Regions from separate parts of the Homo sapiens genome. Here region 1 is linked to region 2. Evidence: fine-mapped expression QTL. A gene starts in region 2. The other region holds a variant in brackets. All regions are shown on one strand. Distances are between the middles of the regions.

Region 1 (9,089 bases), 120 kb after region 2:
GAACAAATATTTGTATACCCATGCTCATTGCAGTAATAGCCAAAATGAGAAAACAGCCCAAGGTCCCACAGGTGGGCAGATACCTGTGGATAGACAAAATGTGGTATATACATACAACTGAATATTATTCAGCCTTAAAAAGGAAAGAAACTCTGACACATGGTATAAGATAAATTAATGTTAGTCATATTTTACTAAGTGAAATAAGTCAGTGGTAAAAGGACAAATATCTGGTTCCACTTATCTGGTACCTAGAGTACCTAGAGTAGTCAAATTCAGAGATATATAGTAGATATGTGGTTGCCATGAAGGGGGGAAAGATCTTATTTCAAAGTATTTATAGGAACTTCTAAAATAGGTGTACAAAGGGAATGGGGAGTTGGAGTTGAATGGATACAGAGTTTCAGCTGGAGAAGATGAACAGGTTCTAGAGATGGATAATGCTGATGGTTGTGCAACAATGTGAAAGTACTTAGTACCGTGGACTATACAAGTAGAAATGATTAAAATGGTAAATTTTATGTTGTGTATATTTTGCCACAATTTAAAAACTATACTTTTTTCTAAAACATAGACTTTACACTCATTTTTTTATATTTGAATTACCTTCAGTATAAAATATTGCTCTAGGAGGTAAAAAAAGACTGAAACCTCAATTTAGAGGGGATAAATCAGGAAAAATAATTAATGGGTCAACAACTATTCATTGAATACCTTCTGGATAGATGGACTTCTCATTATTACCATGAATGTTTAAGCATGTTCAATTGGATATAAAAATGCAATAGGAAAAACTGACATTTCTTTCTCAAAAGTTAGGAGTTGCCAAGACAAACGGTTTCTCCATATTTGAAATAAAATGAGGTCAAAATTCATTTTCAAATGAGAAAAAAGTGCATTTTTCATTGTTTATGGCCTAAAAATGACTAACAAAAGTGTCACCTTTGGATTAATTACAAGGGATAAAAATTTATGCTCCAGAAAGTAATATTTTCAAAAAGCCAGAGGTGACCAAAAGCAGTGTGTAATAACCAAAAAATTTAATCATAGCTGATATATTAAAATATTTGTGATAGCAATCAGAGTTAACTTAGTTCAAACAAGTTCAGCAGGCACAGAACACAAAGAAAAAAACAGGAGAGAACAGGTTTTGAAATTCTAAAAGCAAATCTTTGAGTCATTTGTATAATTTAAGGTTTCAATTACTACAGGTTTTACTGTCTGCCCATATTTTTTCTATTCCCAATAGCATAAACAAAATTATTTTTCAATTATAATGGAAGTTGACTCTACTTACTCCTGATGGAAATATCTGAATAATATTTCCAGCTATGTCTAGGATTCTTAGTTTTTTAAGATCACAAAGTTCCTGTGTCAGAAAACAGAAGAGAGAGATTTTTTAAATCTAATATTTAAAATCATAAGGAAAATCATAAATTTTTTTAAAGCTCCAACATGATGAAGGTGGCCATCTTTTCTAATCACTGTACTGACCAATTCTTCAGCACATCTTCCCGAGCAGACCCCCATATCCTGGACTGCCAGCTCTTTGAATTCTTCATTTCCTCTGACCACTCCAGGGCAACATAACATGGCCACTGTGAGTTACACTACATCTAGGTTGAAATCTCACCTCTGGCAGGTACTATAACTATGGGCAAATTTCTTAATTGCTTTGTACTTCAATTTCTTTATTTGTAAAATGAAAATGCTAATAGAAGCCCTTAAGTCATACGGTTGTTGAATGGATTACTTAAGTTACTGAAAGAGCTAACAGCTAGAGGCTGTCTGCAATCCCCATTCCCTACAGCTAGGCAGCAAATCCTTGAAGGGAGTCCTCTTCTTAAGTCCTACATAGTCTTCCATTGCCATGATACTCTCCTTTGTATTGTTTTAGCTGCAGAGATTTTCAGACTCCAATGTGTTCCTTCAGTATCTCATGTTATGATATAAGGGCTTCCACCCTACTTGAAAACACTTCATAGCATTACTTCCGTTGCTGTCGACTCTTGCATTTTCATTTGTTTGTTTTTGCTGCCATGACTGCCACTATTATTGCTGTTGATATTTGTTGCTGTCTTTTTCAAATCTTTGCATGTGTATACCCCTCACAAGTATTCAATGAAGGTTTAAAAACTCACAAATAGGCAAGGACAAAGTTGTGCTATGAGAATGAGAAGTGTTACGAAGGGTTAAGGAAACAGTGATATATGGAAAATTTGGTATTAGGAGGTCAGGAAAGGCTTCCTGGAAAAAGTGAAGTTTAAGCTGAGATTCTCTGAGTTATTTGGAACAAATGATGTTCCATTAAGAGCAAACAGTTGTTTGGGATAGAACTATAAGAAGTCTAGTGTGATGGTTAATTTTAGGTGTCAACTTGACTGGATTAAGGAATACCTACAATGCTGGTAAAGCTTTATTTTGGGTGTGTCTGTGTGAGGTTGTTTCTAGAGGAGATGGGTGTGTGAGTCAGTAGAAGGGGTGGGAAAGATACATGTTCACTGTTGCTGGGCACCATCCTATCAGTTAGTGACTTGATGAAAAAAAAAATGTAATTTCCTCTCTCTCCTGGAGCTAGGACACTTCTTCTTCTGCCCTTGGACCTCAGAACGCTGGGCTCTCCAGCCTTTAGACTCTAAGATTTACACCAGTACCCCTCCCCTCCAGCCACCACCACAACCTCCCAGTAATCAGGCCTTTGACCTCCAACTGAGAATTACACCGTTTGCTTCCCTGGTTCTGAGGCTTTCAGAGTTGGACTCAGCCACATTACCAGCACTCCAGGGTCTTCAGCTTGCAGATAGCCTGCTGTAGGACTTCTCAGTCTCCATAATTATGAATACCATCAACTACTTGCTATCCTCCTGCCCTGTCACTTCCTGCTAGTGCCTCTCATCTGCCATATCCAAGAGGAAACCAGAGGACAAAGAAGTTCACTGCTGCCCACACAGGTCAGTCTCCCAAGCAGAAGGCAGGACAGAAAGTGAATATGAAGGAAAAAAGGAGAGCCAGTACATATTCCAAAGCCAAAATGAACTTGTATTTTGTTCTGTATACATCGTTACCAGATAAAATATATAATGCTCACTTAAATTGAAATATCAAGGCTGGGTGCGGTGGCTCACGCCTATAATCCCAGCACTTTGGGAGGCCGAGGTGGGCGGATCACGAGATCAGGAGTTTGAGACCAGCCTGACCAGCATGGTGAAGCCCCGTCTCTACTAAATTATAAAAATCAGCCGGGCATGGTGGTGTCTGCCTGTAATCCCAGCTACTCAGGAGGCTGAGGCAGGAGAATCACCTGAACCCGGGATGTGGAGGTTGCAGTGAGCCAAGATTGTGCCACTGCACTCCAGCCTAGGCAACAGAGCAAGACTCTGTCTCAAAAAGAAGAAAGAAAGAAATACCAAACAATAAATAGGTTTTTTAGTCTATTCCATGCAATATTTGCAACATACTTATAGTAAAAAATTTAATCATTGCTTATCTGGAATTCAAATTTCAGTGAGCATTCTATATTTGTATTTACTAAATCTGGCAGCCCTAGCTATGTGGGATAATTCAAATTATAGCCTTCTTCTGTCATAGGGATTTGGGAACTGACTACATTTAATCTGAGAGAAAGCAAGTGGTGGCTTATACTCAGATACCCAAATCTAATCTATAACCACCTCCCATCATGTTGAGTTCTTCTCCAACAGCAAACTACTGTGGTTCCATGTTTTGCTTACCTCCGGCAAAACTCCAATGTTGTTTCTGGCTAGCAAAAGCTTCTGAAGCTTCTTCAAGAATTTAATCTCTTCAGGTATGCATATCAGCTGATTGTAGTTAAGTTGAAGTTCAACAAGATTCTCAAGAAAACAAAGTTCTCTAGGAATGCTGGCTAGTTGGTTATAATTTATACTCATATAAGTAAGACTTTTTAATCTAAAAAAAAAAAAACACCAAAGTATATGAATGAAACTCACAAGAATAAGAGTCCACTATATAGGCCCAACTTAGCAGAAGCCATGTGTCAATTTATTTTTTGTAGCTCTTCTGAGCTTACTTCAGTCAAGTGTTTACAACTATTGTGATCATGAGTATAAAAAG[T/G]TTTTGCTGAAATTTAATTTTTAAAGATCTTTTGTAATCAGATGGCTTATGTTAAAAGTATGTTAGGTAATCAAAACCTAGATTTCAGAAAAAGAAAATTATATTTCCTTTCTTTATACATATACATTGGCCATACCCAAGAGAAAGCTAGAGGACAAGGAGAACACGGACATACCTATGTATATAGATCAATACAGGAACAGGCATAAGCATACATAGACATAAATATACCTAGTACCAAATAGATATGAGTACTGCTCAATTGCTGTGGAAGTTCAAAGATGAATCAGCCACAAATTCTGCCCTTTTGGATGCCCTGGTTTAGGAGATATTAAATAGAGCCACAAACTGAGAACAGCAAATGCCATTGGCTAAGGAGAAAAAGGTTAAGGAAATTTGAGTCTGTAATTGCAGATATGGTTCCTGAAGCATATTGCAAGTTTTTCTAAAGAACTGACATTTTGAATTTGGCCCTGAATAAAAGAACTTATAAAATAGGGCAATAAGAGGGAATAGTAAGCTAAGAAAAATATTATGAATAAGGAAGCAGAAGGGAATTAACATTACTAAGCACAACTACATGCCTGTGCATTAAATTTAATAATCATCAACATGACTCTGAGGTTGGAATTACTACTCTTATTTTAAAAGTGAGGAAAATAAAGCATTAGAGGCAGTAAATAAATTCCCCAAGTTACCTATCTAGTAGGTAACAATGTCAAAATTCTAATGCAGGTGTGTCTGTTTGCAAAGCTAAGAGTGAAAACATGTAATGATCTCAAGGTTGAAGTGTGTTAAGATTGAAGTAATGTAAGAATGAGGGAACTAAATTTTTAGGCAGTTGAAAATGGGAGACTGGAGGTTAGGAAGTCATCAGTGCTAGCAAAGGGAATTTTGAGGATTCTACAGATCTCTCCGTACATAGTAGAAGCCATATGAATACCTGGGATTGATAGGAAAAACAACAAAAGAAAATGGGCAGAGAGAAGAGAGAGGAAGCCAACAGAAAGATTCTTGAGAAATATAAACAACTGACCATTAAAAATTAAAGGCACCCAGCAAAGTTATGAACACAGAAGTAGAAGAAGAACCAGATTAGCAAGGAATCTCTGAAGGTGTGAGAAAAGAAAATTTCAAAATTAAAGAGATGGTCAAAAGTTTAAATGTTAAAGAGAGATAATCCAAACTAACAAACAAAACTAGTAGAAATAATGCCGAGTCACAAACTACAAAGTCAATATTTAAAAAATCTATTGTATCTCCATATTGTAGCCACAAACAATTGGAAAATAAAAAGTTTAAGATTTCCATTTATAGTAATGTATAAAAAAACCTTCATGAAATAGTTAAGAGTACATATAACAAAAGACATGAGGGACCTCTACACTGAAAACTATAAATTATGAATGAGAGAATGTAAAGGGGCTTTAAATAAAAGTAGAGATATATTATATTCAGGTATAGAAAAGCAAAATATTGCTAAGATATCAACTTTTTAATATTGATCTATAGATTCAATAATAGATTCAAATACAAATTTTGACAGCTTTTTTTGTATAAGACTTGACTTGGGCTGGGTGCTGTGGCTCATGGCTGTAAACCCATAACTTTGGGAGGCCAAGGTGGAAGGATTGCTTGAGCCCAGGAGTGTAAGACCAGCCTGGAAAACATAGTGAGACCCCATCTTAAACAAAACAAAAAAAAAAAAAGACAAATCAATTTTAAAATTTATATGGAAATTGAAAGGACCTAGAATAGCCAAACTATTATAAAGAATAAAATCAAAAGACTCACTTTACCTGATTTCAAAACTTACAATGCAGCTACAGCAATCAAGATAATCAAGATCATATGGTATTGGAGAAATGACAGTGCTATGGTCTGAATATTTGTGTCTCTTCAAAATTCATATGTTAAAATCTAATCTCCAATGTGATGGTATTATGAGATGGGGCCTTTGGGAGATGATTAGGTCATGATGATGGGGTAAACCTCATAAATGTAATTAATGTCCTTACAAAAGGCCCCAGAGAGCTCCTTGCCCCTTCTACCATGTGAGGACACAGTGAGAAAGGTGCCACTCTAAGAACCAGGAAGTAGACCCTCACCAGACATCACATCTGCCAGCACCTTGGTCTTCACTTCCCAACTTCCAGAACTATGAGAAATAAATTTCTGTTTTACTCCTAGAAATTTAAATGAAAATGAAATTAAACATGTTTACAAAAAGATTTGTACAATAATGTTTATTGTAGCTTAATTCATAATAGCCCTAAACTGGAAATAACCCAAATGTACATCAATAGGAGAAAAGACAAATGATTTAGGGCATATTCACGCAATGAAATGCTACTCAGAATAAACAAAAACTGCCAGGCATGGTGGCTCACGCCTACAATCCCAACATTTTGGGAGGCCGAGGCAGGCAGATCACTTGAGGTCAGGAGTTCGAGACCAGCCTGGCAGACATGGCGAAACCCCATCTCTACTAAAAATATGAAAATTAACTGGGTGTGGTGGCAGGCACCTGTAATACCAGCTACTCGGGAGGCTGAGGCAGGAGAATCATTTGAACCTGGAAGGCGGAGGTTGCAGTGAGCCGAGATCATGCCATTGCACTCCAGCCTGGGTGAGTAGGGCCAGACTCTGTCTCAATAAAAAACAAAAACAAAAACAAAAAACAAACCAATGAACTACTAATAAATGCAACAGTTATATGAGTCTCAAAAAATATGCTAAGCAAAAGAAGACAGACACAAAAATGTATATACCATATTCCATTTATTTAGTTCTAGGATTGGTAAAACTAATTTGTAAAGAACACAGAAATCAGAATATTGATTGCTTATGAGAGGTAAGAATTCACTGGAAGGGTGTATGAGGAAATTTCTGGGCTGAAGAAAATGTTCTACATCTTATTGGTGTGCGTACATTTGTCAAAATGCATTGAATAGTACAAAATGCATTGAATAGTTTTATGTAATTTTTATTCAGCAGAAAAAAAAGGCCATTATATTTGACTATGTAAAGGACAGTAACGACTTTTGAAAATGATCTAAGGTAGAATGGAGAAGACAGAAGAGAATTTACAATGTGTTACACAGGAAGCAAAAGCAAAAGACACGGGACTTCAGAGAGAGATGACAAGGAAGCAAGAGCGAGAGGAAGGAAAGAAATAGAACAATGGAGAGAAAGATGCTGAAAAGAAGGAAATTGAGGGAGCTCAAATTTCTCAGGATAATAGGAAGTGAAGTTCTTTGCAGTATAAAGGGTCAAAGAAGGACAACTCAGCACTGAAATGGAGTAAAAATGTGTGGAGCAGGTCCTGTGGGGAAAGGGATGGGGAATTTTCTTCATTAATCATTTTTATAATCATTTTTATTATCATTTTTATTGATTCTACTCTGATTTACTATATCATGGGAGTTGGTTTTAACTTTTTTGTTCTTTCAAGGCAATAAAATGAGCTCAGATCCTATTGTTCATTTGTCCATCATTCATTTGTGTGAGTAAAGAGCAGGGAGAGAAACAAATATCTGCCATTGTTCCCGATTCCACAAAGCAGGGAGATGTCCTACTTTTCCAAAGAAAATCTATAGGAGATACACTTGTAGATTCTCCCTGACATCTGTCTTCCCCAGGAGATTGAAGAACAACTTCACTGACTGACGAATTTGGAGAAAGAACTGAGCCTGCTGACTTAGTCCCTTGCTCTCTCTCTCTGTCTTCCAGACTCATTCTGTCACCAGGATGCCCATGCTGTCCTCTTCCTGTGCCTGTGCAGCGCTGTCCATGACAGAGCTGTTTAGGTGTAAAACTCTTACCTGCCCAAATTTGACTCCAAGTCCATGAACTGATATTCTGTAGTTTAAATGAGCCAAAAACAAAACTCCTTTTCCCTCTCCTAAGTTCTAAATAAATTGAGAAATAAGATATGGAATTTAGAGAGAAGGAAATCAAACATCAGCACAGAGCTGACATGATCACTCTGAGTCCCTGCTAGCCCTCCTCTGCATTAAATATACCACCCCATTCACAGCCTTTCCTGCTGAGGCTGCTGCTTACTTCATGGCAGGGCAAGAGGAGAATGCCAAACTACATATGCTCAATGCTTTGCCCAAATCCACTGAGAAGTCATTCCTTTGTCTCTGGAAATCAGTGAACAAAGGGAACAGAAAGAAGCTAGAATAAAAATAACAACCAATAATAATAAAAGCTAACATCCATTGAGCACTTACTCAACCCTAATACCTTTTATGTCCAAGGCTCAACCCTAAATATATTGTATGAATTTGCTTAACTGTCAAAACAATCCGATTTATTTTCTGAAAATACTATCATCATCCTCATTTTGCAGGTGAAGATGTTAAGATATAGGAAAGTGAAGAAACTTTCCCAGGCTCAGAAATGGAATTCTACTTAGAGAGATGACCAATTAATTGATATCTAGTAGGATATGGCCAGAATATAGACAATCCAGAGTTAACTATAAGACAGAATAGACCTATACACTCTGCAATCCTACTTTCTTCAGTGAAAGCATTCTTTCATCTTTCTAACATATTCCCTTAGATTTACGATTCCTTGAATACTGTAATTTGTATTCCAAACAGAGATAAGTGTATGAAATTGTGAAATCATAACGTGTTATAGCTGCAAAAACTTTGAGGTTCATCTATTCAAAATTCTTTCTTTAGAGATGAGAAGGCAGCAGTTCAAAGTAGTTAAATTACTGGTCCAAAGGCATAAATCTAGTTGCACAGAGATATGCCCTGAACCTCATTCATGAGATCTCCCAAGGGATTTTTAAAATTATATCATCATCAATATATACATCGATTGATAAGCTGAATTTGTAAAAAAGCAAGCAGACAACTATTAGCATGGCATTTTCATTGCTGCAAATATTTATCTTTTATAGAAATTAGATTGATTCAATTCTTTTCTAGTTGCTCTGACTTAAAATATTGCTTTCCTTATAAAAATATATTTGGAAA
Region 2 (9,089 bases):
TATTCTGGCTGCAGTATGGAATATGGCCTACAGGTGGAGACAGAATAAGGAATGAAGACCCACAAGATGATGACTTCAATAGTTCAGACAGAATTACAGCGACTGCAGGGCCCATGAAACAAGACTACTTAGTTAAAATGAGAGGGGATAGAAACAAAAGAACCTGGCAGCTGGTCGTATGCTAGTGGGCAGGGTGGCAAAAGAGAGGAAAGAGTTGAGAATGATGTGCAGGACTTTCTAAGAGAAGAAGTCTAGTATAAAAGTGAGGGCATAGTCTCAGGAGCCAGATTACCTGAGTTCAAATCCTACCTCTTCCACTCATTTGCTGTGTGACTTTAGGCAAGTTGTTTGTCCTCTCCCAACTTCAGTTTTGTATATATGTCAAGTGTTCTTACAATACTGCTTGCATCTGTGCCTAAAAATTACTGTTGTTATTATTATAGTTCTGGTTCGAATGGAGGTTACATTCAGTTTGTTTTGAAGACACAGCATTTGAAGTACATTTAGAACATTCTAGGTTAGCATATTTAAATATGTGGATCTCCAAGGTCACTCAGGAACCAAGGCTGCTGATAGAGTCAATGCTACCTCCAATACATAGCTTCCAAATTTGCCTTGGGCATTAATACCTGCCAGCATATAGGGGACATGAGGATCATACATGACTTTTACAGGCTAGGACTGGAAGAAGTATACTTCTGCTCATTTTCCCTTGGCCAAAATATAATCACAGGGCAACACCTAACCTCAAAGAAAGCTGGAAAAGGTAGTCTTGCAGTGTATACATCACATTTTAATGATAATCTGGCTGGTTTTTAAAAATTAATAAATAAATATGTAGATCTCAAGTTGAGAAGAAAGTTTCATTAGCATGAAGGGGGTGATTAGCATCTTTTATGCTTTTAGTGAAGGCCAGGGTTTGAATCTCCAGGACACCAGTGTTTGGTGGGAGGCAAAAAATCTGCAGAGAATCATAAGAAGAGAAGGACAGACAGGTAGCAGGAGAAAAACAAGAGTGGTGTCTAAAAACCAAGAGAATAAGGGATTTCAGAAAGACTGTAGTCAACACAGAAAATGCTACTGATAATAGAAAAGCATCTATATTTAACAATTAGGAAATCTTTAATAAAGTAAAGATTTACTTTATTAAAATAATTTAAAACAGCTTCTTGCTATTTGACATATAGAAAACACTCAAATGAATTTCCATTATCCTTAATTTAAATGCACTCCTTGAGAAAGAAGAACGAAAAACAACTACTAGATTGAAACATAAACATTCTATCTTTGTAGGTCAAGAAACAGTAAATTGGACAATTTTATATAATTCAACTATGCTGAGTAACTGAAAAGCTGCTACAAAAATGGGTAAAGCTAAAAAAAGGTGCTTGAGCCTATTGTTTGCGTTATGATGCAAGAACAAAAATTATCCCTCTTTCTTCTAATTTTCCTTAGAAAATTGAGCTGATAATAATTGCCAATATTGTATTCAGACAAACAAGAGGTAATGATATCTAAATGCCTTCCTTACTCTGTATCCTATTCTAGTTATTTTTCTTGTCACTTTGCCTTTGAATCTAAAAACTGCAGGGATGAAACCTGAATGCAAAAGCAATTTGAAGGGAAGGATAGTCACACCTTTCCAAAGAAATGTCTTCTATTACTAATAACATTGGTGTTATGAAAAGTCTTGTTATTTTGGCAGTGTAGACTATAAAGTGAAAATGTTGAGTGTTGGCTTTGGAATCAAGTCCTGACTCCACTACTTATCAGGTATGACGTCCAGGGAAAATTTCTAACTCTTCTAAACCTCCATTTTCTCCTGTGGAAAATGGAGAGGAGACTGCTGTGTCTTGGGATTCTGTTAGGATAGGGGGAGATAATGTATGTAAGGGTTTAGGGCATTGCCTCTTACAACAAATGGTAGCTTATGGCATTTCACTTTTTAACTGTCTATACGTAGTAGATGAGCATGAAAAAGTTTGAGAAAATTGTTTTTAAAAGAATAGACATTTTAAAAATAATTAGTCTTAAATTTCACAAACAAAAACGTTTTTGTAGTGCAGCCTTATCCATTCACTGGTAGCCTTCCAAGAGAATCAGCAGCCAGATTCATAACTTCCCAAGACACAAGGGCTGAGTATGTGTTGTGCTTCTCATCAGTCTTGGGGCTGGCCAATGTGTCCCTTCATAACCAGTGAAATACATGACTCGTAAAACAAAATCCCTCAAAATCTATACCCAAATAAAAGCCATATAATTAACTACTGAAACTTATACATAAATAGTATCACTAATGATACACCATAGATAACTTTATCTTATCCTCAAATTGTCTTATTAACTTGATATTTTCCAAAGGTAAAAAAAGAAATTATTTTTAAAAACATAATTCTCTTTCATTTTACATTAAATTAAAGCAAAATAAATTTATAGCATGCTGAAACTATCTGGTTAAAAAAAAAATTCATCACTTAAGTTTTCAAAGTACATTGGTATTGTTTCATTTGGAATTTAAAACTGAATAAAAGCAAGTCCAAAAATGCCCAAAGCTGTTATTTACTTTGCATTTTTCTGAAAGATTACTATGCATTTCTATTGGCAAAATGGTCATTAAAAATATAAGACTATTCAGTAAAATGGAATCCTATAAAGTATGACAGTATTATGGATCTTAAAGTCACTAGTGCAGATGTTCCTAATTATACCAAAAACACAAATACACAAACCAGTTTGTTCCAGCTACAGAATAATTTAATTAAAAGAGTGCTTATAATTTAACAGTGTAAATAATAGTTAAAGCCAAGGAGGTAGTGAAACTGCAAGGAAATATAAGCCTGCAGTGTCTATGCCAAGGAAACTGCTCTAAATTCTCAAGGTTCAGAAATTAGTTCCTTTCCTTGCTACAGGTAGAAAATTATTTGAATTAGCCAAGAACTGCAATGGATATATCTTTAAGGCAAACAAATACACACACATGCACACTAGGTCGGTAGCTTTTGCCAATAGAAACACCTATCTAAATCCAGAATATCATTTAGTCTGTTTTGGGGAAAGTTAAAATCAGACTTCTCACCAGTTTAAATATCTTACTGAGAAATAGATGTAGTAGGTAATGTGATACAGAAGTAAATCAGCATAGACAGTAAAACATAAGCTCTCAGGACACACAGGATTCTCTTTGCAAATACCAATCTTGGCAAAGAGCCTCCTTTATGTACAGAAAGCTTTGTTCCTTGTTTATAGCAACTCTCAAGGCTACAACAGGTAATTGTGTGCTGCTAATTAGGTTCCAAAACGATTGTGTTCAAGCCAGGAGTATTTTATAGCTTGATTCAGTGAAAGTAGGCAACTATATCCATAAGATCATGTTATAAAAACTCACACTCCCATAATTACTAATCTTTCACTCTAAAACAGTGTGAATTTTAACAGTGAAAAAATGTAATGTCATTCAAAAGTTTATTCAATGCTTAATAGCTATCAAAATACAGAGGAAAAAAGACAATTAGGAAAACTCTTCTCCAAATATATCCAATATGCTTGTTTCCCCACAGCTAATATCCATTTATTTAGCTAAATTGTTTATTCTAGGTCATAGTATTATTCCAAGGAAGCAAAGTGACATCTACTCTGCATAATACAGGAAACTCAAATGCAATACATTACCTTGGGTCACCTGTTGAACTGCCAACATTATCCCAGACACAGTGTCTGGAAGCAAGTTTTCTTTCAGATTGTAATGTGGTGCCCAATCCAAAATGGGCAGTCGCCTTCTACACCACTGTATAATGTCTTCACACTGGGGGGTATGCATCTTGCTCCAAAGCATGCTTTTCTTTTTCCTCTTTGCTCCTGTCATTTTTCAGATTTCTTCTTGTAGAAGTAAACTTCTCTAAACAAGAAAAAAAATCATTGCAGAACACCTCCTTTCAATGCCAAGCTCCAATTCGTCTGTGGTTTACAATGTCAAAGCTGCCCAGAAAATAAGTAAATAAAAGAGAGAGAGAGAGAGAGATTAACAGAAGCACTTCAATATATGCAGCTGTCTTTTTATGATACAGCTAATTATTCTAGATTTAAAAACTATAGATTAAAACCTTGAATTCTTATCTGAAGGAGAAGTAGTTCCTGTTCATGTAATATTTTTTTCTGGTCTTGGAAAAGTAATGGGTTCAGTGTTAAGTTGGTCTACAGCTCTCTCGCCAGTAATTCCCCTTATATTCACTGTAGTCTTATGTTTTTGGCTGCAATCCCAATGGTTAATGAGGTAGTTCTGGGCGTGTGTTGGAAGTGGGCTGGGCTATGCTAATGAAACCAGGAAATATCCAGCTAGTCCAGTCTCTCTCTACAAGCTGTGCAAAATCATAAAACTGCCAGAGGGATCTATTGTGCAAAATATATTCAGAGAATCCAGCCCTATTTCTTTGAGAGCTATATATTTTCAACATTATCAGATGACTGCCAGTTCTACAAAATTCAGAAACATAACAGGGCATTGCTAAAGGTCCTTACCATTTTTATTCCCTGGCAGATGAGGTTTTCATTCATACAGAAACATTCAGATAGCTACTGCCCAGTCTGGGAAAGGAGTAACTAGTTCTCATAAACAAACTGAAATTTCATCTCATGGGCTAAGAGAATAAGTATCACAATGAGCACATATTTGTGACAGGAGATCTTCCCTGTCTCTGAAACTGTTCATTCAGTTTTCTCTGATGGTTTCTCTAAGTCCTATAATTCATTCTACTGTAACTGAAATTTACTGAGGAATGTTATATGGTTCAAACTATTGTTTGAAGTATCCTTAGCTTTTTTTATGGTGCTGCCTTCTTTTTGTATAACTTTTGGGGGTAGGTGTTCTCTTTTTAATAAGGGGTGTTACATTTTATAATAGAACAGACTGTCAAAGATTTTTATTTTATGATCATTTTGCTTAGCCTCCAAAAGAAAAAGAAAAACTTAAATCTATGAACTGTGCCATTGGAATTAAACCAAAAAGGCAACATACTAACTAAAATTGTGTAGCCAAGGAAAAGAATACCATGTATATAGTTTGCTGAGTCCTTTTTAATGCCCATTTGTTTGGAGAATAGAAATCTGATTTCTGGAAGCCTTTATAATAACAAAGTACTTGGATCCCTCCTGCTGCACTTTTTCCCTTTGTTTTTAAATTAAAGTGAAGAGTTGCTCTCCATCTTCTAAAGATGACATCTCTAGCTTTGTGTCTGTGCAAAAATACCTTTCTTTTTAAATCCAACGAAGAGACGCAGCGGGGTGGGGGGGAATTTATTTATACTTACAAAATAGAAACTGCTTTGTTTGTCCAACTGTTTTTACATTATATTAAATTTCTAAACCATTCAATAGTTCAGGTTTGGGGCCTGTAGAGAGAGCCCCATTTAGAGACCAAGTTGTAGCATTTTAATCCTATCCTCTTGGTATGAGAGATGAACTCACCAAATAATTGTAAATTCATGCTTGAAACATTACATTGGTTTTCCTTCACAAAAAGCAATCTTTACTTTTGTTTTATATACTCCATTTATTATATACGCAAAGAAATTCAGAAGCTATACATACACTGATTATGTATTACCTTTATAATAAAAATAAACACAAGATTTTTTTTCAAATCCTATCTAGGTCATAAATTCTAACGTATGTTAACAATATGAGAAAAATAATTGAAAGCTTAACTGAAATCACCAATCAACATCTATCATTTGTGTAATTTCAATCATTTTTAAATTTGTGTTAAATTCCATAACAAAAAATTCACATGAACAGGATTTTATGAATTGAAGGTAAATAGAAGTACCTAAATCATATAGCACCAGCAATTGTTCTAAAACATTTCAAGACCAAGAGAGGGTAGAAATTAACAAAATAGTTCTGAAATCTCTCAATTTAAAAATTTCTTAAAATTAGAATGAATCTTTCCTAAAAATCTTTTTTGAAGCTTAAATCTGGAATTCCAATTCCAGATGTTTTTTTTCAATTTCCATGTGCATACATATTATTTAAAACATGTCAAACCAGAGCATGGATCATGCCTATTTATAATCAGCAATGCCAGAAAGAAAGAAAAACATTATGAGGAAATTTATTCACACACATAAGATTCTCAGAGTAACTTGAACAGCCTGCAAAATTCAAGAATGCTAAGTGTATTCATTCAAAAGTTTCAATGACTAAAAGTAGCTTACAGTTCAACAGTATGTACCATCTATATGGAATATCTCTTCCTAAACATCTGGGATAATACCTATACAAATAAAAAGATGAAATTGTTATCTTCTACTTCATACATGGATTAACAGAAAGATTTTTTGTAAAATCTCATTTTGATTACATCACTGATATGTTTGAATTTCAGTTATCTCCAATATCAAACTTAAACTCATTAGTGGAAGCAATGCAGTCCTTCTCTGCTCCCCTTCCCACCTTCTACTCACTAGCTTCTCATTAACTCTAATTCAGCAAGTTTTTATTAAACAATGATAATTTGCTAGACTCTGTGTGAAGTGCTACAGAAAAGGGAAGGAAAAGGAGTAGATACTACCTCTGTATTCTAGGAGTTACTATTTAATGAAGAAAATCAAAACATGTATAACTAACTCAAGGCAGAATGTGATAAATAACAGTCAAATCACCCAATAAGTCATACGGGAGCTCAGAGGATGGAGAGTGGCATTCCCTTTGCGGGGAAAAACAAAAGTATTTCAGCCTGCTGAGACTCTCTGTTGTAGCAGGTAATTATACTCATGATGTCCTGGCCATTACTTTTCCGTTTTGTTTTTTTTTTTTTTTAAGACAGAGTCTCGCTCTTAACTCCCAGGCCGGAGTGCGATGGCACAATCTCCACCCACTGCAACCTCCACCTTCCAGGTTCAAGCGATTCTCCTGCTTCAGCCTCCGGAATAGCTGGGATTACAGGTGCACTAGTCTATTTCTATATTAATGGCCCTAGTTACATGGTATTTTACATCTTCTAAACATTTACTCAATGTTTACCTCTTCCACGAAACTTTCCCTGGTTTCTCCACAATTTTATTTATGCTGTGTAATGAACATTCAGGTAACTCTCAGTGTATTTGTGTGTATAGAGCTGTAGTCATTTTCACTGTTTATTGGTTTTCCTCCTTTAAATCTATTTCATGTGATTTTTATCCAGTCTGACTCATGAGATTGTACATTCCTTTTGAGTAGGGATTATTCACATAAATTGCTTTGCTTCTTTTTTAGAATTTAGCAGAAGGAGCTGCAGACATTGGATTCACACAGTAAGTATTAACATACAAATGTTCATCCAAAAGTACCCAAAAATCATTTAGTCTATCTCATCCTGGTTTCCAGGTTGTGCTCTTAAAAAATCAGATAACCAGGTGGAGAGAAAATGAGAATAAAGGTTCTAGGAGAAAAATAAGATGAGATTTTATCTTTGTTTGCTCAGCTTCTCCCAGTTCTCTCACAATCTATGGAAAGTTCTTTTTTCAACACAGTTATTTTTTCTAATATTATAAAATCTGGAGCACAAAGAGAAGAAAAACCAGATGGGAAATGCGGAAGAAATAAAGGAGACAAAGGATAGACAGACACCCTCATGGGTTGGGGCTTCAGAGAGAATTTGTAGAGGGTTGGCATGTGAGGATCTCTGCGGCAATTATGAAGTGTGAGGGAATTTGGCCAGGCTCAAGTGAAGAAACAGACTTTTGAGAAATGCTGTGCAGGTTATAAACTGAATCACATTTAATGGTTTCTGAGAGACATTAGTAAAGAGTGAAATTCTCTCGCAGTATTTTTGGTTTTGACATGAGGCTTCTTTGAATGTGGTCTCTGTGGAGATTGGGACACCTAAGACACTGATTTATATCGAGGTTACAATGAAAAGTATAGATCAGACATTGGAAGTTATCAACCCCAAACTCATACCTACCTCAGGAAGTTGATCTACAGCATTTCTAAGAAGACACTGTAAAAGGCTCCCATCTGAGAGGGAAAACGAAGGCTGATACTAAGGAAGGCCATACTCTACCCACCAAGCCACATAGCTGGCATGGGGATACGTCCACACAATTGCGTAATTTGTATCAAGTCTACCAAAGTACTTTTTTTCTTAATTTACCCAAAGTTTCATACAGGCACATCCCTGAATCCAACCTCTGCTTTAATTCTTCCGATTTCTAAAATTAAAAGGCCTAGAAAAATAACCGATTCCAATTTTCTAACATTGTGATTGTTAGAACTTTTTTTCCCCAATTATTGAGGCAAAATCTGCTACTTAAGAGCCCAATCCCAATGACACATAACACATAATTAGTTCCTCAGCTTCAGGCCTAATTAATTTAGTGTAAACCTCTAAAGAGTTCTGATATTCTATGGTGCTGTTTATTTAAAAAATACTCTTACATTCAAATATGGACGCACATATATAAGTTAATTACAGTCCTGAACAGTGCCGTTAATATTTTTCTCATGATAGGCCAACCAGTACAGTAGAGTGAGCAAAGTTCTATGTTCTCAACAATGATTGCCAACATGTCTTACTTTGCTTTCTTTGGATTAAACTTTCCAATAGTTTCTTTAGTGTGTTTTTTTCTTTCTGCTATTATTTCATATTCTGTGATCTATTTTGATACATAATAGGAGCCAAAAGAATATAAATCAAGTGAAGTCACAAAATGCCTAGGGGCCAGGTGCAGTGGCTCATACCTATAATCCTAGCACTTTGGGAGGCAGGGGTGGGAGGATAACTTGAGCACAGGAGTTTGAGACCAGTCTGGGAAACATAGTGAGACCTCATCTCTACAAAATAATAATAATAATAATAATTGAAAAATTTAGCTGGGCATGGTGGCTCATGCCTGTGGTCCCAGCTACTCAAGAGGCTGAGGCAGGAGGATCACTTGAACTCAGGAGGTCGGGGCTGCAGTGAGCTGTGATCATGCCACTGCATTCCAGCCTGGGCAACAGAGCAAGATCCTCTCTCAAAAACAAACACAAAAAAGCAGCAAGAAAAAAAAAAATGCCTAGGGAAAGAATCACTTATATATTCAAACACATTTTACAATAATATAAGACATTTT

Direction of the effects. Positions count from the first base shown, and alleles are read on the strand shown. Sizes are in standard deviations (SD) of each study's normalised expression.
With allele T in place of G in region 1, the expression in spleen of the gene that starts at base 4,195 in region 2 is higher (moderate effect, 0.70 SD a copy in GTEx).

What was found. PIP is the estimated chance that this variant, and not a neighbour inherited with it, causes the effect.
Region 1: its variant is the best candidate, but not a certain one, in a credible set for the expression of SLC26A7 in spleen (GTEx, PIP 0.69).

The regions. Positions count from the first base shown.
Region 1 is chr8:91,127,948-91,137,036 of GRCh38, reverse strand. LRRC69 (leucine rich repeat containing 69) reads right to left here. Exons shown (of 8, transcript NM_001129890.2): 4 at 3,732-3,927; 5 at 1,298-1,369. Among named protein-coding and RNA genes, the nearest start is that of LRRC69, 30 kb to the right of the region's middle. The variant T/G (reference allele first, on the strand shown) is at 4,093.
Region 2 is chr8:91,244,425-91,253,513 of GRCh38, reverse strand. SLC26A7 (solute carrier family 26 member 7) reads right to left here and starts at 4,195. Exons shown (of 19, transcript NM_052832.4): 1 at 4,101-4,195; 2 at 3,670-3,975. The coding sequence starts at 3,862.